Linked DNA regions of Homo sapiens: all the other regions are linked to region 1. Evidence: fine-mapped expression QTL. A gene starts in region 1. Each other region holds a variant in brackets. All regions are shown on one strand. Distances are from middle to middle.

Region 1 (8,308 bases):
AGAATAGCCTGCCATACCACAAAGTTGCTGGATAGCTCTGAAAAGATTTTCCATTTTAACCTTACCTTTCCTTCTGCAGGTAAAGATGGAAGCAGCACAGTAACCAGAAACAACACCGGTAGTAAAGCCATTGCTGGAAACTAAGTCAAGAAAAACAAAGGTCTGCATTGAAATATGTAGTTTAAAAAACTTCTAAGAGGGGGAATACCAATATAATGATCTCGATTATCTCAAAGGAACTGTGATTCCCAGATTCATTAACAATGGAACAAAAGAAGAATTGCCCTATGGTACTAGTAGAATCATAATGAGGCCAACCTTGTCTTTGATAGTGACAATAAAGAAAAAGCTGAAGAACTCTACTGATGCCCTTGAGGTACATCTATAAAAGAGAGAGACCTACTCCCTTCTTTCTGCCTACTTCTGCTACCCTTACGCCATCAAAAAGAAAATAGATTCCTTAATAGTTAATTATAGTACTGACATTCATTCTTCATCTCAATTTTTGGAGGAAAGTTTATTTTCAATATGTACCATCTCTCAATTGGCTATTCTATACGAAAAGTAAAACGGTTTGTCCTTTTATTTATACCAGACTCTAATTAAGATGACAAGGTTGTGATTACACAGATATGGTTGTGCAAATACTTTATTAGCTGTTATTTCCCTAATGGAGTAACTAGAAGTTATGTTTATTTTCTTCCTTATACTTGTGAATATTTTCAAATTTCTCTGTATACAAAAAATACAATTAATGCATTGAAGATATAGCTTATTCAAGTTTACTCAATCCATTATTTGGTAAGAAGATTGTTTCGTATTTTCATTATCTCCTAAAAAGACACTCAGCATTTTGTTACCCATGTTGTCCTTTCTCAATATGTCAAAAAGTCTCACGTCCTTCAGATGAAACAACAAGACCACTTAGTTTTGGAAACACTCACCTTTCTGTCATTAGTCATATAAATTGTTTAATTTGTAAATTAAAGTTATGCTGCCTAGATTTGTTTCTTGTGTGTGAGACTGTCACTCCCAAATTCTTGGAAAGAAAGAAAATTCCGAACAATTTATCTGTGATGCTTCTCAGGCTTCACTTACTGTAAATAGTGTATCATTGATACTTGTTCCATCCATTGCCTTTATGCTCAATTATGTGCAAAAAAGGGATGAGGGATGAACAATTATTGACGGTTCATGGAAAATGATATACAATTTCACTCCCATACCTTACTGGGTATTACTATTTATATTGTATGGATGATGTAATTGAGGCTTAAGACAGTTAATTAACCTATGCCAATGCTACGTTCTTAGGTAATGTCAGAAATTAGTCTTCATCCAATTATGACTTCGAAGTCAATGACTTTGAAAGAGACATTGACTCATTGAAAGAGACACAGTTTTAATTGGGAAAAGGCAGACATTGTTGCAGCACAATGGAGACCCTTTATTTTTACTTTAATAATTCCCTTATTAATACATAACTGTATATGTTAATAGTAAAATCATTAATATGCCAGCTTATACAATATACTTAAACAGCCATACTTTTCCATTTTCCTATTAAAGGTAGTTCTAGTATAATTGTCTCAAGTCACAAACATGAGAATTAATTCCATTACTTATTTTTAGAATAAAATGTAAAAAATTTTTACATATCAAATTTTTTTGTGTGTGTGCGTAATATTGCTGTAATTTACCTTCTTAACTGTAAAAGAATAAAATTAACTTGAGGTCATTCTCAATACAAATTTATTAAAGTTTTGAAAATCATGGATAGGCCAGGCACAGTGGCTCATTCCTATAATCCTAACATTTTGGGAGACTGAGGTGAGAGCACATAACTTGAGCCCAGGAGTTCAAGATCAGCCTGGAAAGCACAGTGAGACCTCATCTCTACTAAAAACAAACAAACAAAAACAAAACATAATTAGCTGGGCATGGTGGCAAGTGCCTGTAGTCCCAGCTACTCAGGAGGCTGAGGTGGGATGATCATTTGAGCCTAGGAGTTTGAGGCAGCAGTGAACTATGATCACAGCACTGCATTCCAGCCTGGGTGACAGAAAGAGACCCTGTCTCTAAAACAAACAAACAAACAGACAAACAAAAAACAAAAAAATAAAATCATGGGCAAACTCATTAATCATTTTACCCTTGACAACATAAAAATGATTGGCATGATAAAATATTCACATTAAAATCAATGATTTAACACTTACTGTTGGTTTTCTGAGCAGGATGAAATATCTACTTTATCTTTAGAAAGAAAGAAGGTGGAAGGTTTAGAGCAGCATATATATTACACATATTCCTGTTTTGTCAAACTCTGGTTTTGTTAAATAAATCTAAGTCAACAAAGTTCTGAAGTAGTATTTTTCATACCAGTAACCTTAAACTTCATTGTCAGTTGTCTGATAATGCTTTTGACATTATTTGCTTCCCACATAGTTTTTAACATGAGTAAGTAAATCATGCCCTCCCTTTCTAATCAGTTCTCCCTTCTCCTTAGGCACACGATAATCTGCATGTGGCCTTTTTGGACTAGTATTTCTATATTGACAACCCAAGACAGGTTAACTACTGTGAAGGTTACCAGGATTCTGCCTTATAGCTGAACTCTCATAGTTCAGCTGTCTATGATTTTTACTTTCTAATTATCAACTACCTGTAGCTTATTGGTTACGGGTGCATTCTTTGGAAACCATCAGGTCTGGGAAATCTATGCCAAGCTTCAGTGTTTTTCTTATGTAAAATGTAGATTTTTATATCACAGGTTTTTGCTTTGAAGACTGGAAGGGACAATGTATGTAACACCTCTAATACAATAAACACATTATGCACATAATACAAATAAACGGAAATTATTCATGTTTTTATTATCTTTTGCAATGTCTGCTAGTTTGTTGAGCTCATAAGAGCTTTCTATAAACATATGCTGTTTGATTGAATTGCTAATTACTAAGTGTTTAAGAGACATGTGTTTCCTTCCAGGTGTTATAGGAAAATACAATCAGTATAATCTAATTCGAGATTCACATGTTCAAGGCCTGGTTCTATTAGACACCTTCTGGCTGACTTTAGGAAAATGCTCTAACATCTGGGCTGTTGTATCCTCATCAGCTCATTGAAAGCCATACACAGGAGCCTGAAGAGTTTTGTATAGCTCAATCACCCAGTGTATGCATCTGATGAGCCAGAATTCTATAATAGGCCATGATGCCATACTCTCCTCTTTGCTGCTCTTCTCTCTCATAACCTCAACCATCTAACCTATACTCATCTTCATTGAGTCAATGAAAGCAATGTCACTGTTGGTGAGAGTATATTCAAGGAAAAATATTTTTTTCTATTCCATATAATTACATTTTATTCCTTTAAACCCATATTGATATATAGTTGAAAAGTTGGCTACCATTTTTTTTCTTTGCTACTTACTAATGGTGAAGTACTGTGCTCTTTCTTGCAGGTGTTTTAAGATCAGGATGACATGGTTTTCCTAGAGTGTCTTTAGGAGGGCCATGGTGTATAATTTTATAACCCTAGAACAAGGAAACAAAATATTTAAAATAAAGATGTGAAGAATACCCTTATAGATGGTATCTATAATCTTTGTCACAAACTTAAATTTTGACTCAATTGTTTAGTATTGTTTCTAATAATTTACTGTATTTATTTGATTTCAGCGTTAAGACCATATTGTCCTTCTGAGGTCAGATTGTATTTCAACGCCCTGATATTTCCTTCAAACACTAACAAAAAAGTGGACTTCTTGAAGTTCAGTAACTACTAGTTGGCTAACTTGCTTGGAAAATTGCAACCTTTTTTCAAGACTCCCAACCCCTTATCTAGGACTTCAACCCATTCTTTAAAAGATCATTTCCATAAGCAGTGTCCCACATGGTAAGTATTAACTACGTGGATTTGGGGGTAACAGCTTTGTCTCTTCATTTTTTTTTTAAATTCTGGAAGCCAATAGATGATATAAAGTCCAGCAGAGTCAATGACCCCAACTCTAATTGTTATTACAGTTTCTAATAACTGTACATTCAAAACATCAATTAGAAACTAAGAGTCTTAATTTGACTTCGTAAAAAGCAGATTGAGAAATGACTTCAGGCTTCTACTATGATTCAATGGGTCTTATGTACTTAGAATGATTTCTCTTTTAAGGTAGGTAAAGAGTTTCAATAGACTAAACATAGAGAAGCATGTTGAAAGTTATGGTAGGTCGGCGCTAAGCAACAAAATTGAACTCTCAGTCTGCCCGGCATTAGCTATGTGCCCTCCAGATGCCGGAAGAGGAGCGAAGGAGGATCAGAAACCCCCTCACCTCAACGATGGTTCTCTCCCCTGTGCTTCACCCCACCTCCCCGTCCCTAGCCATTTCTAGTCTCCAATCCGGGTCTTACATTTACCCTGGCTCCAGAGCACAGACCTTCCTGCAGTTGGGCCGGCGCGTTGCGGCGTTGAGGAGCTGCGGCGCGCCCCTCTCACCGCGATTGTTCACTTGCCAGGCGCCACGTGTGGGCGACGTCACTGGGCTTTATGCTTTCATCGCCGCTATCTGCCTACGTGAGCTGCTCTCCTCCCATCGCCCCCGCCTCCCCTACTACGGAGAAAATCTTGCACGTTTTCCCTTGTGAAAAGCAGAGTTCTCTTTTTCTCATTACCACCAGTTGATGAGGAAAGAAAATGTCTGTTCGCATACCTGCGCCGTACTAGGAGGAGGAGGGAGGTCATATAAGGATTCGGGTTGCCCAGGGGGTGGCTTGAAAAAGGAGGCGTTCGCATTCAAACAAGAATGCCTGAATTAATGTAGTTCAATTTAAAGAGCTAATTAGGAGTCCACAGGTGCTTAAGTTTGCAGTGCGCTGCCAGTGTCATGCCAACGACGCACTCCAGTTACACAGGTTGTCAGTTTCAGGCTCCCTCATAAACACTTCATGTTCTTGTCCCTCTTCCCCGTTGGCAACAGTTTTATGGTGAGAAAATTCACGAAGAGTAACAGGAACAACTCTTATGAAAATACGCAGAACTCCTGACCCAAGGCTACTGGCTGCAAGTTTAGCATACGTATCAAGCATGGGTTAAAGACATGTTTTCTCTCTCAGAAGGCGGATGAGTAATAGGTGCATTTTCTTCTATTCACAGTTGTTTTCAAAGCGAAAAGGAGTGAATTCGCTTATGACCTAGAGGAAGAGAGATGGGTCAAAAGATGTCAAGCCAAGGATTAATATCCGTCATACCTTGGTTCTCTGTAAGCCATGCAATAAGAGGCTTGAGATTTCACCAACTCTGGAGACTCACTTGGGCACAACTGAAACTATAACAAACTTGGTGCTCAGTGCCATTTTCCTTTGGCAGTGTTACAAGGTAATTTCAAGGGATCAGCACACAGACATTGTTTTAGTTTTCTTTTGCTGCTTATTTCAGTTCATGCAGCACTGACTAAAAATTTTGGAATTTAGACTGCTTAACGCTTATATCTACATCCAATATCAAAATTCATTACTGACAGTTTGCCTTTCTAAATATTTATGAAATCTAGTCCTCAATCTGTCCCTCACTTCTATATTCATGTTTTCACCATATCTTGCTTAAGTTATTAATTGGACATTTCAAATACCTATATGCACAAAATCTCTGCCTACCTATTTGTTCTTTCTTTCTAGTGCCGAACAATTCATTCTCAGCACTATAATAGTCTATCATTTACTGTGAATATCTTATTTTTCATTTTTGGAGAAGAGTCATTCCTGTAATTATTACTTGTTCCCATATTCACATTGATGATATCAGAATGAGAGCAACTTGAGCGCTGTGGTGCCAGATATTGTTGGTGAACCTGAATTTCAGAAATTGGCTATGTCTGTCTTGATTATTGCTGTATCTCCAAAACTAACACAATACCAAATATAGGTGGTAGTTTGTAAATATTTGTTAAGTGAGTAAATATTGACCCGACATAGATTCTTAGAAAATACAGAAAAAAGGACATAAAATCTCTTTCTTCTAAGACTCATAGTACTATGAGAGAAAGGAGTATGTATATGAATAAGTAAAGAATACTATTAGGTAGTGTAGTTTAATGCTAAGTAGGGCGACCAAAAATATATACAGTAATTGAGAGTTCTGTGAGTTGATATGATCTGGGTAAAACCTAGGAAAGTTTTGACATTTGAACTGTTATTGAATAATGCGTATGGCTTGATTTGAAGGGAGAAAGAGTTGAAGAACAAAAGCAGATAAATCATTATATCACAAGGCATATTCAAGACAGAAAGACTGTTGAAAAGGTTGGGGAAACTTTGTATAGAAGTCTAAGGAGATTTGCTTCTCTGTATAACATGGGAAAGTAATTTCATTGACATTTTGGAGGGTTGGGAAATTCTTTGATCAAAAGAATGTTTCATAAAAGCCACCTGATCTCACTGCATGGGGTGATTTACAGAGCTGAGAAATTGATGGCAGCAAAAATAAGTGTGGTAACAATTCCCCAGATTAATTTTGTAGTAGTAGAAATAGGACAAAAGGGTGGAATATGAAGAGATTTTTAAAAAGTGTTGATAGATTTTGTATGAAGGGCAAATCCAGAATAGAAGACTTGTAAGTTTGGTGCCTGAATGTGTTGGAGAGCACATGGAAAGTAGATCTCCATTACTGAGAGGAATAGTACAGGTACTTCTAAGAACATTGCCAGGAGTCCTTTGCTTTTCTAGAAGGGCATCATTTGTTAGTTCCTTTTTCTATGGTTTGGAGTAAAAGAAGCAATGATTAGAAATGCATTCCTCATAGTAGGCTCTATAGCAGATTCTACTGTATAGGATATAGTTAAATACCAGACTTTAAATTCTCTTGTGAAAATTATGATAGAATTGGCTGAATAGAGAAGTATCTGTGCAGCTGCTGGCACTTGTGGCCTATGGAGAAATACATCAGATGAAGACTATAGAGATTTAGCTGTAGAGGATAAATGAAGAGATTGCTTAGTTAAGTAAGTAGACTCTTTAGCTCATTTTTTGATCTATTTAATTTTAGGTGGTTTGGTTTATGGGTAACCTGGGTAAAGAGCATACTCCAAACTCTTGGTATTATCCTCCCGATAGTCATAATAATAGTTTCCCTGGTACACTGTATTCTCTCAAAGGTTTTAAGTGCTTCCACGCAGCCATTGCTAGAATGTCAAATGGTCTCTCTTCAATTAGAATGACAAGAGCTGAAAGAAATGTGTGACCATGAGGACACCATAACCTATGAATGATGTGGTGAGACCAGAAACCCGAAATAATGGTAACTGAGAGTGGTGCTAAGGCCCTAAGTTTTGGTCACACTCTCACCTAAGTGAGAACCTTATCAAAAAGGGGGGAATTTTCTTTTTAAGCAAAAGCATAGGAGGCAATTGTTTTGGACTGAGTTCATGCACTAGGCCCCAAAAGACCAAACCAAACCAAACCAAAACAGAGTCGCTTGTGCTAAGACATTAAGGAAACACATAGATCCTAGAAAAGACCAGGTTTTGTTTTTCTCCTGCAAATTTCCATAACAAACATTGCTGAAAGAATAGGTATCCACCCCCTAAAATTCCCATTAAATCTTTAACCCAATTCATTTCCTCTCGCCTAGAGACGATTAAGCTTTAGATGATCATGTGACAAGGGTTCCAGCCAGTTCCAGGTGAAGATGCCTCCCCTGGCCATCAAGGAGCTACCCTTCCTTCACTAGAGAGAGCAAGGCAAGAGGTCTGTGATCCCCACACCAGTCATAAAGCATTTACAGAAGAAAGACCATCGGTTGTTCCACCTCCCATAAAGACTTATGGAGATCACATCTTTCAGGGGGAAATTGAGGCAGGAGAATAGGGCCTAGAGGCAGAGAACGAAAGGACTTTCTAGAACTAAATCAAGGGGAAACACTTCTTCTAGAAACACTGTATTGGTACAGAAAAAATTTCTCAAGTGAGCATGTGTACAACTCCATTAAACACACTGTGCATGAGGCTGCTCCCAAGTGCTAGCAGGCTACTGCACATGCAGATGGCCTAATCCAAGGGAAGAGTAATGCAAGACCCTGGAAGTATGCCAACATATAAAACCCCAAGTCAAAAGGTCAAATTGTTAGAGGAAAGAATGGCTACTCCATAGGCAGAGCAGCCCCAAGGGCTGCTGGTTGCCAATTTTTATGGTTATTCTGATTATATACGAAACAAAGGGTGGATTTTTCATGTCTCCCCTTTGTAGACCATATAGGGTAACTTCGTGACATTGCCATGGCATTTGTAAACTGTCACAACCCTTGTGGAAGTGTAGCA
Region 2 (8,308 bases), 23 kb after region 1:
GCCAAGAATGGGAATGTTAGGGAAAAAAAGATTTAATTAATACTAATCTCCTCTGTGTGTTCATCTTACAGTGACTAGCCTGTACATCATTGATGATTATTTTCCTATCGGTAATTATCATCTGAAAATACAAGAAAGTCAAAGTCTTAATTGCACTAAGTAGGCTAACGGTCCAAGGCTATGTAGCTGAATCTCAGCCTTTCTTCACAGAATATAGCTGTTGGTGTGTGAGCACTTAAGAAAATGTGAAATAGATATCAAAGTGTTCTGGAAGTTCTCTTTTCCCTGTTTTCTCTCATTACTAATTCCAACTCTCACTTCAGATGCTGACTCCAGATGCTCTCCTCTAATGACCAGGCATTTGGAGGCAGTCTCCCAGGGTCTTTCAATTTTCTGTATTAACAATGATAATTCTTTGCTGAAAAATGACCTTACAGGTCATATTTCTCAGACTGGAATCCTACATCACCTGGGATATCTACAGCCTCAAAATAAGCCATGCAGAAAGCTGAGTTTGGGGAAAACCCCTCCCACTAGTGGTGAACAACTTCAAATATTAAAAGGAAATTAAAGCTAATAGATATGTTGTGAATATATCTTCAATATATCCACAGATTTTTTTTCGTGAGTAGGTCAACTATATTGCTTGAGAAAAAAAAGTGGACTTTCTGCAGAAAACCCGAGATAATTAAGAAATTAGGATCTTAATGGAAGGTTCCATGAAATTTTTTTTGTGGTAAATTCTAAGAAGCAAAAATTTAAGACATTATCTTTTCTTGGCTATTTGAAATATATTGGGGATCTCTTAAAAGTCTTTGAGGTCCAAGATTTAATCATTTCTTAATGTATAATGTGAAATTTTCTGATAAGCAGGAGTAAGAGCATTTGAGCAGAAAGGACTGATATTGCTAAAATGGGTCATTCCTTATTTGTTTGTTACCTTACTTTATCCCTGGACTAATTATCAAGCTTCCAGTTTCTCGTGTGTAAACTTAGCATGAACTGATAAAATTATATTTAGATAACTACACACTACATGTACTTATGAAGTAACCGTGAGCATAGCAAAAGGCAATTGAGAGAGGAGACAAATTATTTTAGGCATGAGGAAAGACAGCTCCCTGTTCAATAATACTTGGAACTGGAACTGAAAACTTTATCTTTCTGAGAAGTTGGTTGAATGTGTCTCAACTTTAGAAAACATTTCTAAAGATTAATCTCCTTCACCTTTACTTAAATATGCTTTTTAGTTTTTTTTTATTAAATGTTAAATTGTATTTAGCATTATTGACAATAAACGCTAAAATATATACTTACGCAGGACAATATTGGCAAACATAGTAGTATTTTAGAACTTTTTGATTGGGACAGTAGGCATTTCCACATCCAACGAGGTATGAAGAGTACCAAACAACCTATAAACCAATAAGTGAAGATATGAGAGCACATTAGAGAAGAAGGAAATACCAAAAAACAAATAGTAGGAAATACAAAATGGAGAAGAATGTTACCGACATATTTTGTTTTCATATACCTTATGGCTATATTTAGTTAAATTATTGAATCAAACTAAAACACTTTAAAATATTACATTTCCATGTACATTCCTTTTTGAGACCGTTGGACAAAGATTATGCTTCCCTACCATGATCCTGCAGTCTACTGAAAAATGACAGTTCACAGCTGAAATACTCACCAAATGCCAGACTATTCTATATTCACTTGAAATTTTCCCCAAATTCAACTTGGAATCAGTCAAAATTTGAAGAATCCTTTTTTTTTAGGGCACTTATAAAGGAGATGGTTTTTCATTTCTTCTCCTTACCTGTGTATAATGTCCAACCACTGCGTTGGGAGTCTTTGGCCCTACACCAAAGTCAAAATCATTGTACTCATCAAACCAGCTTTGGATTGCTTGTGACCATGAGCTGGAGGCACTTGACATGTAGAGATTCTCACCACATTTTAGACCTAAGAAGGAACAGACCACTCATGAGGAAAGCAATAAAGCATGCAATGGCAAAATACACACAAACACACACACACTACACACAGCAGAATCCCTGTTTTTTAAATACAGTCCCCAGTACCCACCGTTAATGAATATTGACTAATACATAAGGAGGGTGCCTCAGATCCTTATCAGCTATAAGCTGAATAGAAGCCAGATTTGCCCAATACTTGAGGCTGGTCTCAACATGCAAAACTTTGAGTAGATGGAGAAGCCTTTTTTCTTTAATGTCTGCTCTCCCTGGATTCATTTATTTACACATTGAATTCTTCACATGTGTGTGCCTTATGAGCTTTCAGCTTTGTAATGTGAGCTTGCTGAAGACAGAGATCAACTTAGTAATTCCTCTCCTGCTCTAGCCCATACTCACCAGAGATTTTCATATATAGGAATCTGAATAAGTGGTTAGAATTATTATTTTGTGTGAATTTTTTAAAAAGTCTTATGCTCAGTCTTTAAGAGCCCTAAACATGAAGCAAATGACACCATAAAAGACAATATTTTCACAGGTTACAGGCCTCCTCTTAGCAAATCAGAACATCACAGGCCACACTCTGGTCAAAAAATAAGGAAAAAAGTGCCTTGCAGCCCAGAAATACTTCAACACTTTTTCAAGCCCTAAAATTAATATTTATATTTGGATGGCTTAACAAGGAATGTCTACATGCTACTTAAAGAGAGTATAAACTACCTTTGTATAGCTCCTTTGAGAGGGAAAGAAAGAAGCTAAGATTTTAACAATAGATTGGGATTTTCAAGACCATTTCTTTCAATCTTCTCGTGACCATAGTTACCCCCTTTCATAAATTTATTATAGTTTTATATCAAAAATATAGATAACAGTGGCTGTCCTATTTTCAAAACAAGCCAGTTATTTACCACTTGTAAATTTGGTTTGCCTTTACCTATGTTATTTTTGATAATTTAATAAGTATTTTATCTGATAGCTCATCCATATGATATTTTATCTAATTGTTTTTATATTTATTGATGTATAGGTTATGTCTTGCAGGTCATTTTTTTAGTTTAATATAGTATGCATTGTAAACATCCAGAAAATATAAAAGACATGGCTTACTGTCATCAAAAATTCAAAAGAAAATAATAAAAGTTAATGCTAATGTTAAATACGTTTTTCATAAAATTCAGGAACAGTTTGACAAAATTTAAAATATTTTATAGAAAAAAAATTAAGTAGGTTTCAAAACACAAATAGGCTGCATATTGTCACTAAAAAGGGTACTGATTTAGAAGCCAGAAATTCTAATTCCAAATTTCCTATATATGACATTAATTGCCAATCATCATTTTCTTCCAGGCTGTTGATTTTCTAATCTCTGTAATTGGGAAAGAGATGATCTGTAACCTGCTTTACTCCTGAGCTGATTGAGAGGTAAAAATATGATACTGTGTGAGACGGTTTTTGTAAAATTTATTTAAAACAGTAAGCACAGATGGTGCTTCTCAGAGTTATCTCTACATGTAGATAGTCCATATTGAAAAAGGTAGCATTAGAAGCAATATTTATTTACAAACTTTTCTTAATGCAACATCATAACATGGTTTATTATTTTACTTGTTGATTTATTCAACAAATATTTCCTAATTTACATACTTGTCATTCGATCCTTTGGGTTACTGTGTCTGTAATTGCACTGGTTTGCCCACTTTTGGGCATTTGCTGCAGCCTCTTTGTTCCATTCCTGAAACAAGGACAGAAAAAAGATATCCACTTAATGTCTCAAACCTCAAAGGAGCATAAGCTTTATAATCAGGTTATAGGTTGATTTACATCATCATAAAATTTCTGTACAAGCATCTTCTGATTTTTATAGTAATCAAATGTATATATTTTTTATGTGCTTTTATCTGCTCCACAAAGAAATATAGGTAATATGCCTACCCTAAGTAATCAAAAAATCTAGGTTTATGGTCCAATTATTTATCACAGGACATCAGAAACACCTAAAGATTTTTTGTAATGGTCCTGTTCTAAATATTGATAAACATGTGGAGGTGCTGAGATTGCTTTTCCAACAATGAAGTAATTAGCTGGCTTACTTCATTTCCAGTTCTTTTTTTCTTTTTTTCCCCCTCACTGAATATGTTCGGGAGACATGTGGCCTTTGGTACAGGGCCCAGAAAAGTAGATTGTTATTTACCCTACATGGCATTTATCTTAAAAGGAAAAGGTCTTTCTGATCTCAGATTAGGACAGATAAGATAAGGAGCAGAAAAACATAATGGCTTTTCACCGTATGTCCAAAGATTAGGTTTTAATTCTGCCTCCATAATTTAAATAGCCCTATGAATTTGACGTTATGCAACCATTATAAAGAGAAGTTAAGAAATTCAGCTCTGCCCATTACACAGCTCAAATGAAACAAAAAAATACAGAGAGAACTTTGTAAACTTCAAAGTTATTAAGAGATATTAGTTGCCAGCCGCCTACTCCTTCCACAGCTTGTTCACACCCCTCTCCTTTGCAATATCACCTCTTACCATCTTCAGCATGTTTCTGGCAGGGGGAGATACTGCTCTCCTCAGTTCATTGTGCTTATTCACAATCTCCCTTTGCACTTGTGTTTGGGTGGTTAACAAAGCAGTAAAAGCGGGATCCTAAGGGAAAATAAAATTACAATTATCTTTTAACATTGTTGGAAATTGCACATAATAGTAACTATGTTAGTTCAAGGGAACAAAGACCATTTTTAAAAAGTGTTGCCAATGCTAGGTAAACATTGTCAATGACTGCCAAAGCTATGACTTTTTAATGGAAAAGTATTAGATGAAAGTTTTCAGAATGGGGATATAATTCATGGCATGACAAACTAAAATCTCCTCTGAGGCCACAAATACCAATTTCTGGGTTAAGAGAGGTCTTAATGTGATTTTTCTAAATATATGAGTGATAACATCTTATAGTGACAAGGGTACATGATAG[T/G]AATTATTAAGACATTCACACTCAGGCTGCAGCAAAGAAGTTGTAAAGATTGAGGCATATGATTTACCCTAAGACTCTAGGGGGAATTTCTGCCTGAAATGGTGTCTGGTATTTAGAAAAAATGCTTAGGCTCAGCCTAAGTGCATGTGTAACATGCAATACTCTAGTAAAAGAGTTTTATGTATTACGTAGCAAATATTATGGGATCACTCAAAAGATAGTTTTACCACATTAAAAAAAATCTCCAAGGCAATTTGCGGGGTGGAGCAAAGTCATTTAATTAATGAACTTCAATACCCTCATGTGGCTAGGGGCTACCATATTGATCACCACAGCTTTAAACATAATTATGTTAACTACCTTGAGCTACTAATGAGTACTTTATGATGTACCAGACACTCTAGACCTTTTCACTTTTGAAGATTGATCTAGTAGCTTGCCATCCCTCATGGTTGCCTGAATTTTTCTGAAGATTTTTGACTTCAACCATACCTTATCTTCATTTGCTGGAAAAGATGGAAGCAGCCCAGCAACCAGGAACAACAGCACTGGGAATAATGTCATTGCTGGGAAAACAAAACCGGTGGAACAGGGATCTGCATTAAAATGATTGGTACATGCTGTTGAGTAACATGGGGGTGGGAGAAACGTAATGACCTCCATTATCCCAAATTCATTATTAATGTAACAGGAGAAGACTTGTCACATGGAGCCAGCAGAATGACAGTGGATTCAGCTTTCAAAGTATGCATTCAACTGGGACTATAAAGAACAAACCAAAATTCCCGACTGAAGCCCTTGAAGCATGCCTATAAATGCTAAGGACTTTCTACCTCCTTCTTCCGCAGCTCCGCAGTCTTCTCTGTGTAACTACTGTCTTTAGGTTGTAGGAGTGGATTCTTCACAATAACAATTCAGTAGCTTCCAACTGTGTTTATTACTGGGATACTACTGCATTAGCCCTTGCTGATTTCCTTAAGTGCTGTCTACACTTTTATAAATATAACCTTATTAACATTTCTTCAAATTAAAAGTTAGCATGTGCCAGTTCTTTTCCGTCAGGGATCTGGCTCATATACTTGCCATTCTTCAAACCCTAGAAAGTCCTCTACGTATATGCTTTTTATGCATACCTTTAAACTACTCTCTTCAAGTTTACCCATGCAGCCAGCATCCTAACTCCTTTCCTCTCAAAACTTTCTTTAATACCATGCCTCAAATTTAAAAAGGCAACATTTTTTTCCTCTGGATCTTAAAACAAAAAGGTAATAATTTGATTCTCATGTTTAAGGGATTACTCACCCTATCTGTATTAATATCCTTAATATGTTCACATTCTTTATCTCACTAATTCAACTTCTTAGAATTCTACTGAAATTATAAACTATACTAAAAAGTTTTAAGCATAAAATTTTCATCATGTTATCATTTATAAGGGTTAAAACATTGTAAATTAATTACATGCCTAGCAATAGGGAGATATAATGTCTAAGTAAATGAGAATACATCCTCTTATGGCAGTATATTAGACATAAAAACCACTATACATTTATGGTTGTTTTGTAACCTCAGAGAAGAAGCTTATGCTTCAGTGTTAAGTTTAAAAACAAGAAAGCAGAACAAATAGTATATGGTAGATCCTTAGCCTTCTGATTTGGACTGAACGTTAATAGAAGTAGTGACTCATCCTACAAAAGCTCTTCCTTCTTAGTTATTCACTGGTTCCTCCTGAACCTCAGCTCTGGGGGCTGGGACTGGGTCTCCCTTAGACTATGAACTTAGCTAACACCAAATCCCCACAGAACTCCCAGAGGAAGAGCTTTCCACCCCAGACTGGTTCCCAGCACTAAATTCAGCTTTCCTTCTCCTAACCAGCACCTCTGCACCCCACCACCCCGCCCACTGTGAATCTAAGTATTGGGATGCAGCCTGATATACACTTGCAAAACCCATTTTCATGCTATTAAAGTCAATGTCACAAACCATCTCGTCCCAGCATCGCCCCACAATCACCCCGCAAATATGGGACTTTGCTGGTATCCATTTGTATCACTTTTTCAAAGATATTTCCAATGGAAGAACAAGAAAATGGGAGCAGGGGAGATATACTTTTGATAACAAGTGTGGTTTTATTTTGTCCAATGCATTAATAAATACACTTGAAGTCTGAAAAAAAAAAAGAATCCACGAAAAATGATGTTGCCAGAATGCAGATCTGGAGCTCCAGAAGATTTCAAACTACTAGTGTTATAGACCTTGAAACTCACTCAGAAATAACTTAACCTGGCCCTGCTTCCACTTCTAAATCAATATGTTGATGCCCTAACTCCTAGTGTGCTGTATTTAGAGATGGGCCCTCTAGTGCGTCTCCTGCAGAATTTGAGAGCAAAAGAGGAAAAACAGATTCTTATTTTCATTTGTAAGTCAAAGACAATTAGGTATTCTTCTTTCCTTTAGGAGACATTTATCAAGTTTTGTACACTCTATTCAGGATAACATGTTATAATATTGCTGCACATGATCAAGTGAACAAGACTTGGTTCTTGCCCTCAGAGTCCTGGTATATAATTACGGGAGCTCATCATTCAAGTACCCAGAGGGGGAGCTGGTTGAATTTTCTCATGTGTGCAAAAGAGGAGAGTAAAATTTTATTTCCTTTTACAGTGATCCATTCCAATGCTTTATGGAGAGAGATGGGGAAGAATCTAGCACAATTCAGGGCTCAGGGAGTAAACAACTTGAATGAGATAAATATGATAAAGATGTAACATCAGCTTTAAGACCAATAATGGTGACAGAGAGTCGCTGTAATATTTCACTCCATCCCCACCTCTCCTCCCAAGGGACTACTGTAAATAGCAGGTGCAAGTGGAAAATGATTTGTTTGCAATTCCATTTAGTAGTAGCGTCACATAGAAGGTACTAGAAAGAATGAAAAAAAAATAGCCTCTCCTGTCATTCACTTCCATGAAGCAATTTCTAAGTGTATTAGTTATACATTATTTTCTACTATTCCTTGGAAATAAGCAGTAGATTTCTCTTAATTCATTTCACTTGAAAGAGTTATTTTGCTATGTGTAAGTCACTGAGTCCTACCTTTTATATGGTTTTCTGTTCTGTTCTGGTTTTCCTTTTTCAAAGAAATTAATAATTTATCTCAAGTGTGATTAGAGAAAAACCAAGTCCCTGGATTTCAAAGATTTATGATTTCAAATAGTGATGGTTTGCTACTAATTCCAGATCTACAGCAGAGCAAATTGTGTCTTTCTGAAGCATAAATGTATATAATACAATTAAACTGTAACATACTGTGCCTTCTTCACACTGATGTTAGGACCACTGGTATGTTTGAA
Region 3 (8,308 bases), 90 kb after region 1:
GTGAAAAGACAAATAAAAGAGAAAAAAGAGAAAGAAACTAAAAAAGTGAAAAGACAAAATTGAAGAAAGAGAAACTAAAAAAGGGAAAAGACAAATAAAAGAGATGAAAGAGAAAGAATCTTGGATAAAAAGCTTGAAACCAGTGCTTTGGGGACCAGTTTGAAATCTCTCTTTCTTTTATTGTTCCAATTGTAGAGTTCTACAGAGGCGATACTGGAGCCAGGCTGGGGTGAAGCCCCAAGAACAATAATTATGCTTAGGTCTGGCAGGCTCTAGCTCTCAGCTGATAATCTAGGAAAGAAGCTATTGAAGTAGACATACTGTAATATTTCCTGGAGGACAGACAATATCTGCTGGAAGTGGGAACAGGGAGCAGGAAATCATGCACTATATCATAAGAGGCTCTTTCAATGTATATTTTCCTCCAATTTCAATACACACACATAAATTTAGTTAGCACTTGAGGCTTGGCTTACCCTGCAGATTGGTAATAAAGACAATAAAGGTATTTATAAGGAGAAAAATTCAACATGTCTGAGGAGCTTCAGCATTATGAGTGAAAGCTAACCGATAACAAAATATATCTAAGGAAGCAAAATTCATAGCTTAACACAAGATTTAAATAAATGAAAAAAGTCTTAAATAATTACAATGGAAATATGAAGGACAATGAAGCCGTTATAAAGCATAACCACTTCAACATATTGGATACAAAAAATGTTGAAATATGTAACTTAAATGGATAGATTGCATGGTAAAATAAAAGCTTTTAAAATAATGAATGAGTGATCAGATAATTTGTGGATTAATTCTTGCATAACACACCAGAAAAGGGCCAAGAGAAAGTGAATGAGGACAAAGTTAAGGTGTGAGGAAATTAAAATTTGTAACAATATTAATATCAATCACAGAGAAGGCATAAAAAGAGAAAATATATAAAATGAAGATGATTAAGGTTTTAACAAATAACATCATATAATGGAATAAAAAATCAGATCTCAGGTTCAAAGTGTTCATAACATGATATGCAGAATAGCCAATATTTGAAACAAATTCACACTCTAGAAACACTACAATACATTTTAGGAACATTAACACCGAGAACATATAGTTTTCTTAAGTTTCCAAGATAGAAAAGCAGATCACTGCAAGGGAAAAGATTCAGATTGAGATCCCACAACAGGGTAACTATAGTCAATAACTTAATTTTACATTTTAGAATAACCATTATAAAAGAGTGTAATTGTATTGTTTGTAACACAAATGATACATGCTTGAGGGGATGGACACTCCATTCTCCATGATGTGATTATTTCATAAATGCTTGAGGGGATGGACACTCCATTCTCCATGATGTGATTATTTCACATTGCATGCCTGTATCAAAACATCTCATGTATCCCACAAATATACACACTTACTATGTACTGACAAAAATTAAAAATTAAAAAACTGAATTAAATACAAACATTTCCACAGTTAGCAAAAACAATTTTTAACCTAAATTTTATATCTAGCTAATGTATAATTTAAATAGGAGAGTTAATTAAAAGTAGTTCAAATCATAAAGAATATCAGAATTTTTGTCTCACTGGGAGACAAAAGAAGCTTTTTAAAAAATAAATAAAAACAAAAGACCAACTATGGGTAATTTTATTCAAATAGGAGGAAATTTAAGTGCAGAACAAATCAATAAGTTTGGAAAACTAAGCATGACTAAAAATTCTAGTAAAGTTAATTGTCCAGATAAGTAATCATCACAGTTTTTAGAGTATTTATTGTTGTTTTAAATCATAATTTGATTTTTATAATATTGCCTTGTCTCAGATGAGACTTTGGACTGTGGACTTTTGGGTTAATGCTAAAATGAGTTAAGGCTGTGGGCTGGATGCAGTGGCTCACACCTGTAATCCCAGCACTTTGGGAGGCCTAGGCTGGTGGATTTCCTGAGCTCAGGAGTTCAAGACCAGCCTGGGCAACAGGGTGAAACCCCATCTCTACTAAAATATAAAAAATCAGCCAGGTGTGGCAGTATGCTCCTGTAGTCCCAGCTACTAGAGAGGCTGAAGCAGGAGAATTGCTTAAACACAGGAGGCAGAGGTTGCAGTGAGCCAAGATCACGGCACTGCACTCCAGCCTGGGTGACAGAGCGAGACTGTCTCCAAAAAAACAAAACAAAACAAAACAAAAACTGGGGAGGCATGGTTGGTTTGGTTTGGAAATGTGAGCACATGAAATTTGGAGGGGCCGGGGTGGAGTGATATGTTTTGGCTGTGTCTTCAGCAAATCTCAACTTGAATTGTATCTCCCAGAATTCCTACGTGTTGTTGGGGGGACCCATGGGGAGGTAATTGAATCATGGGGGCCGTTCTTTCCCATTCTATTCTCACAATAGTAAATAAGTCTTACGCGATCTGTTGGGTTTATCAAGGGTTTCCACTTTTGCTTCTTCCTCATTTTCTCTTGCTGCTGACACATAAGAAGTGCCTTTCGCCTCCCGCCATGATTCTGAGGCCTCCCCAGCCATGTGGAACTGTAAGTCCAATTAAACCTCTTTTTCTTCCCAGTCTTGGGTAGGTGTTTATCAGTAGCATGAAAATAGACTAATACAGGCATATTTCAGACACACTTTGTTTTTTTCAAATTTTAACTTCTCTGAAATCAGGACGCGCCTGGCAATGAAGTGAGTTACAGATATGAATAGAATCTACTATTCATTCTAGTAAGAAGACATGGAAAATTTTGTTCAATTTGTCTTGGTTTCACTTTTCTGTTGGCAATATATGTAAAATATACCTTTCATTATCCTATGTACAGAATTCTGGGTGCTGAGATGACCAATAATCTATATTAATATAAGCAAATTTAATCAATTATTTTAGGAACAAAATAGACTAATCCTTTAGTAAGTATGAATACTTACTTTTAATGAAACAATTAATATCCCATTTAAAGCTATTAATGTAAAGTTTTAAAAAAAATTTGCATTCTAAAAAATTTTTATTTTTTTTTAAATTAACGCCTTAGGATTTATTTTAGATTGCCATTGATAGCTCATTAGTCTTTTTAAAGCATCATTTATTCCTTTGCTCTGTCTTTTTTTAAGCTTTTATTTTAGGTTCAGGAGTGCATGTGCAGGTTTGTTATATAGGTAAATTGCATGTCATGGAGTTTTGCAGTACAGATTATTTTATCACCCAGGTAATAAGCATGATGCCCAATAGGTGGCTTTTCATTCTTCACCTTCTTCCAACCCTCCACCCTTAAGTAGGCCTCAGTGTTTCTTGTTCCCTTCTTTGTTCCATGAGTACTCAATGTTTAGATCCCACTTCAAAGTGAGAGCCTGCAGTATTTGTTTTTCTGTTCCTGCATTAGTTTGCTTAGGATAATGGCCTCTAGCTCCATCCACATTGCTATAAAGGCAGCTAGAAAGAAGGGGCAGGTCACCTACACAGGGACCTTATGCTAACAGCAGAACCTTCAGCAGAAACCCTACATGCCAGAAGAGATTGGGAGCCTAGTCAACATTCTTAAAAAAAGAAGTTCCAACCAAGAATTTCACATCCAGACAAACTAAACTTCGTAAGCAAAGGAGAAATAAGATCCTTTTCAGACAAGAAAATGTTAAGAAAATTTGTTACCACTATATTTGCCTTACAAGAGGTCCTTAAAAATTGAAAAATAACTTCTATATGCCTGCATAATTGTCTTGCAATAGACAGGAGTCTTATTTTCCTTTTTGACTTTGTGTTTTTACAGAGCTCAAAACTTTCAGTAGGACAGCCAGGCGCGGTGGCTGATGCCTGTAATCCCAGCACTTTGGGAGGCCGAGGTGGGCGGATCACGAGGTCAGGAGATCAAGACCATCCTGGCTAACACGGTGAAACCCTGTCTCTACTAAAAATATAAAAAATTAGCTGGGCGTGCTGGCGGGCACCTGTAATTCCAGCTACTCGGGAGGCAGAGGCAGGAGAATGGCATGAACCCGGGAGGCGGAGCTTGCAGTGAGCTGAGATCATGTCACTGCACTCCAGCCTGGGTGATGGAGCAAGACTCCATCTCAAAAAAAAAAAAAGAAAAGCTTTCAGTAGGACATAAAAGATTATGACTAGGGCAACCAATTACTGAGTTTTCATAAAACAAATCTTTTCATTAGTCTAGGGTTAATGTTTAATTACAGTTGTAATATATCCAATAGCAGTCTCCATAATAAAAACCATGTTTTATACTTTTTAATAATTTTATAATGTTTACATGCATAAACATTTTATGTTTTATAATTAATCATATTTAATTGATTTTCAATATCTTTAAAGTTTTGCAGTGTAATCTACTATGTGGTTTAATCTATAATAATATGCTGAAAATAACACTGCCACAGAGAAGGGGTAGAGGCTGGAGTTGAGAGGGTTGTAGTCTGTTTCCTCCCCCTGACAGTAATCCTGGCATATGCCATGAGATTTCTGTGCTGCTGAAATACTCCATGATTGAAAGGCTGTGGTCATAAAGAGGGGAGTGGGAAATATTAGTTTGTCTCACATTTTTGAGATATGTGAGCTATGTACCATATTAATCACATTTGGATTCTGATATGGGTTGGCTGTGTCCCCACCCAAATCTCATCTTGCATTATAGCTCCCAAAATTCCCACATGTCATGGCAGGGATCCATTGGGAGGTAATTGAATCATGGGGTTGGTTCTTTCCCATGTTGTTCTCGTGACAGTGAATAAGTCTCACAAGATTTGATGGTTTCATAAAGGGAAGTTCCCCTGCACAGGCTCTTTTTGCCTGCCACCATGCAAGAGGTGACTTTGCTCCTCCTTTGCCTTCCACCATGATTGTGAGGTGTCCCTGGCCATGTGGAACTTTGAGCCATTTAAACCTCTTTCCTTTATAAATTACCCAGTCTCGGGTATGTCTTTATTAGCAGTGTGAGAACACACTAATACACGTTCTCACAAATTATTTTAATTTTTGAAGCAACTTGAATCTTTCTCTTATGGGGGAGGTAATTTGTACCCAGATCAATCAAAGAAATCACTGTCTATGGCAGCTATAGCTTTACAAAATGTATTTCTTAAATAATAAGACTTGAAAATTAAAATTACTCCTTGATCCATGG[G/T]TTGCAGAATTGGTGTTGTGTTAGTAGGCATGAAAACAGTATTAATCTCCTTGTACAACTCCATCAGAGCTCTTGGGTAACCAGGTGCATTGTCAATGACCAGTAACATTTTGAAAGCAATATTATTTTGTCAGTATTCCGTCTCAACAGTGGGCTTAAAATATTCAGAAAAATATGCAGTAAAAAAATGTTCTGGGCTGGGTGCGGTGGCTCATGCCTGTAATCCCAGCACTTTGGGAGGCCGAGGCAGTTGAATCATGAGGTCAGGAGTTCCAGACCAGCCTGGCCAACATGGTGAAACCCTGTCTCTACTAAAAATACAAAAATTAGCTGGGCGTGGTGGCGTGTGCCTGTAATCCCAGGTACTCGGAAGGCTGAGGCAGGAGAATCGTTGGAACCCAGGAGGCGGAAGTTGCAGTGAGCTGAGATCGCGCCACTTCACTCCAGCCTGGGCGACAGAGCAATACTCCGTCTTGAAAAAAAAAAATATTCTGGAAGACAGCTGCTTAGAAGCAGCTGTAGTCTGCAGCTCTCATGGAGAAGAATGAAAATTTCGAGTGAATTCTACACCTTCAACTGAGGTAACTGGGTTAACCAGGTTCTGGCTTTGGGACTGACTAGGTGGTCACATGATCCACAGAGAGTGAGGAAAAGTAGGGTGGGGTGATGGTCCACCCAGGAGTGTCATGGAATCAGGGGAACCCCTACCCCTAGCTAAGGGAGGTGGTGAGTGATTGTTTGACCCGGGCCAGGAAACCACATGTTTCTCATGGATCTTTTCAGCCCGTGGATGAAGAGATCCCCTTGTGAGCCCATACCACCAGGGCATTAGGTCCAAAGCACAGAGCTGGGCAGACTCTTGGCAGTTGCTCAGGCACACACAGAGACCCAGGAATTTTTGCAAACTCAGGCCCCTGGAATTCTGGTGAGGCAGATCTGTCCATTTCCCTAGGAAAGGGGCTGAAGTCTGGGAGCCAAGTGGCGTTGTTCAGCAGGCCCTGCTCCCAAGTTAAGACCCACTGGCTTGGAATTCCAGCTGGCCAGAGGCAGCAGGCTGGATACTGCATGAGATGTTCGAGTTCCCTGGAGGAGGGGCAGCTGCTATCTTTGCAGCCTGAGTTTGCTGTTTTGGCCTGCCAGCTCCAGGGAGTCTGGGTGGTCCAAACCAGGAGCAATTCCCCAGAGCAGAGCGCAGCTGCTGTGGCAGATCATGGCCAGACTGCTTCTTTTTTTTGTTGTTGTTGGAGTCTCACTCTGTTGCCCAGGCTGGAGTGCAGTGGCACTATCTTGGCTCACTGCAACTTCCACTTCCAGGATTCAAGCCATTCTTCTGCTTCAGCCTCCCGAGTAGCTGGGACTACAGGTGCCCGCCACCACACCCAGCTAATTTTTGTATTTTTAATAGAGACAGGGTTTCACCATATTGGCCAGGCTGGTCTTGAACTCCTGACCTTGTGATCCACCCACCTTGGCCTCCCAAAGTGGTGGAATTACAGGCGTGAGCCACCACGCCAGGCCCAGACTGCTTCTTTAAGTGAGACCCCAATCCATCCCTCCTCAATGGGCAGGGCCTCCCTTCAATAATTTTAGTAACTCCAGCCAATGTTTCATGGAAAGAACTCTGATCTTTCTCGGTGGAGTCCCTCAGGGGAGGGGTGGCCGTGGTCTTCACAGTTCAGTGACTTACCCTTTCCTGACTGCTGGATCTGGAGAGTTCAGGTGGTCTGGAGGAGGGGGCTTTCCCCCAGCGCAGCATACCTACTCCACCAATGGGCTGCCAGACTGCTTCTTTAAGTGGGTCCCTGATCTCATGCTTTCTGACTGAGTGAGACCTCCCAACAGGGATCTCCAGGCACTTCTTGTAATAGCATTCGGGGCGGCATCGGATGGTGCCCCTCTGAGATGGAGCTCTGGGAGGAAGGAACAGGCTGCCATCTGTACTCTTTTGCAGCTTCACTGGTAATACCTCCAGGTGCAGGGGATACCCGGGTGATTAAAGCCTGGAGTGGGCCCCCAGCCAACCACAGCAACCCTACAGAAGAGGCAGAAGAGAAGTCTGACTGCTAAAAGAAAAACAAACAAATAGAAATCAACAATAGCAGCATCAACAAAAAAGACACCACAAAAACCCCATTCAAAGGTCAGCAACCTTAAAGATCAAAGACAGATAAGCCCACAAAGATGAGAAAGAATCAATATAAAAATGCTGAAAATTCAAAAAGCCAGAGTGCCTCTTCTCCTCCAGATGATCACAGCACCTCTTCAGCAAGGGCACAGAACTAGGCTGAGGCTGAGATGGCTGAATTGACAGAAATAGGCTTCAGACTGTGGGTAATAATGAACTTCACTGGGCTAAAGGAGCATGTTCTAACCCAATGGAAAGAAGCTAATAATAATGATATAAAATTACAGGAGATGATAACCAGAATAGCCAGTTTAGGGAGGAATATAAATGACCTGATGGAGCAGAAAAACACAACAAAACTTCCCAGTGCAATCATAAGTATCAACAGCCAAATAGGCCAGGTGGAGGAAAGAATCTCAGAGCTTGAAGACTGTCTTTCTGAAATAAGACAAGCAGAAAAGAATAGAGAAAAAAGAATGAAAAGACATGAACAAAACCTCTGAGAAATATGAGATTATGTAAAAAAAAAAAAAAAAAAAAAAACCTATGACTGATTGGAGTACCTGAAAGAGACGGGGAGAACAAAACCAAGTTGGAAAACATACTTCAGGATATCATCCAGGAGGACTTCAACCTAGCAAGACAGGCCAACATTCAAATTCAGGAAATCCAGAGAAGTCCGGTAAGATACTCCATGAGATCAACCCCAAGACACCTAATTCTCAGATTCTCCACGGTTGAAATGAAAGAAAAAATGTTAAGGGCAGCCAAAGAGAAAGGCTAGGTCACCTACAAACGGAAACCCATCAGACTAACAGCAGACCTCTCAGCAGAAACTCTGTAAGCCAGAAGAGATTGGGGGCCAATATTCAACATTCTGAAGTAAAAGAATGTCCAACCCAGAATTTTGTGTCTGGCCAAACTAAGCTTCCTAAGTGAAGGAGAAATAAGATTGTTTTCAGACAAGCAAATGCTGAGGAAGTCCATCACCACCAGGCCTGCCTTGTAAGAGCTCCTGAAGGAAGCACTAAATATGGAATAGAAAAACTGTTACCATCC

The links.
Region 2: its variant is fine-mapped to the expression of CRISP2 in whole blood (INTERVAL, PIP above 0.99).
Region 3: its variant is fine-mapped to the expression of CRISP2 in whole blood (TOPMed, PIP 0.95).

The regions. Positions count from the first base shown.
Region 1 is chr6:49,709,066-49,717,373 of GRCh38, forward strand. CRISP2 (cysteine rich secretory protein 2) reads right to left here and starts at 4,478. Exons shown (of 10, transcript NM_003296.4): 1 at 4,410-4,478; 2 at 3,436-3,539; 3 at 2,220-2,256; 4 at 66-140. The coding sequence starts at 131.
Region 2 is chr6:49,731,878-49,740,185 of GRCh38, forward strand. CRISP3 (cysteine rich secretory protein 3) reads right to left here. Exons shown (of 8, transcript NM_006061.4): 2 at 5,448-5,521; 3 at 4,514-4,630; 4 at 3,627-3,714; 5 at 1,826-1,971; 6 at 1,318-1,415. Among named protein-coding and RNA genes, the nearest start is that of CRISP3, 8.4 kb to the right of the region's middle. The variant T/G (reference allele first, on the strand shown) is at 4,956.
Region 3 is chr6:49,799,226-49,807,533 of GRCh38, forward strand. No RefSeq gene overlaps it. Among named protein-coding and RNA genes, the nearest start is that of PGK2, 16 kb to the left of the region's middle. The variant G/T (reference allele first, on the strand shown) is at 5,125.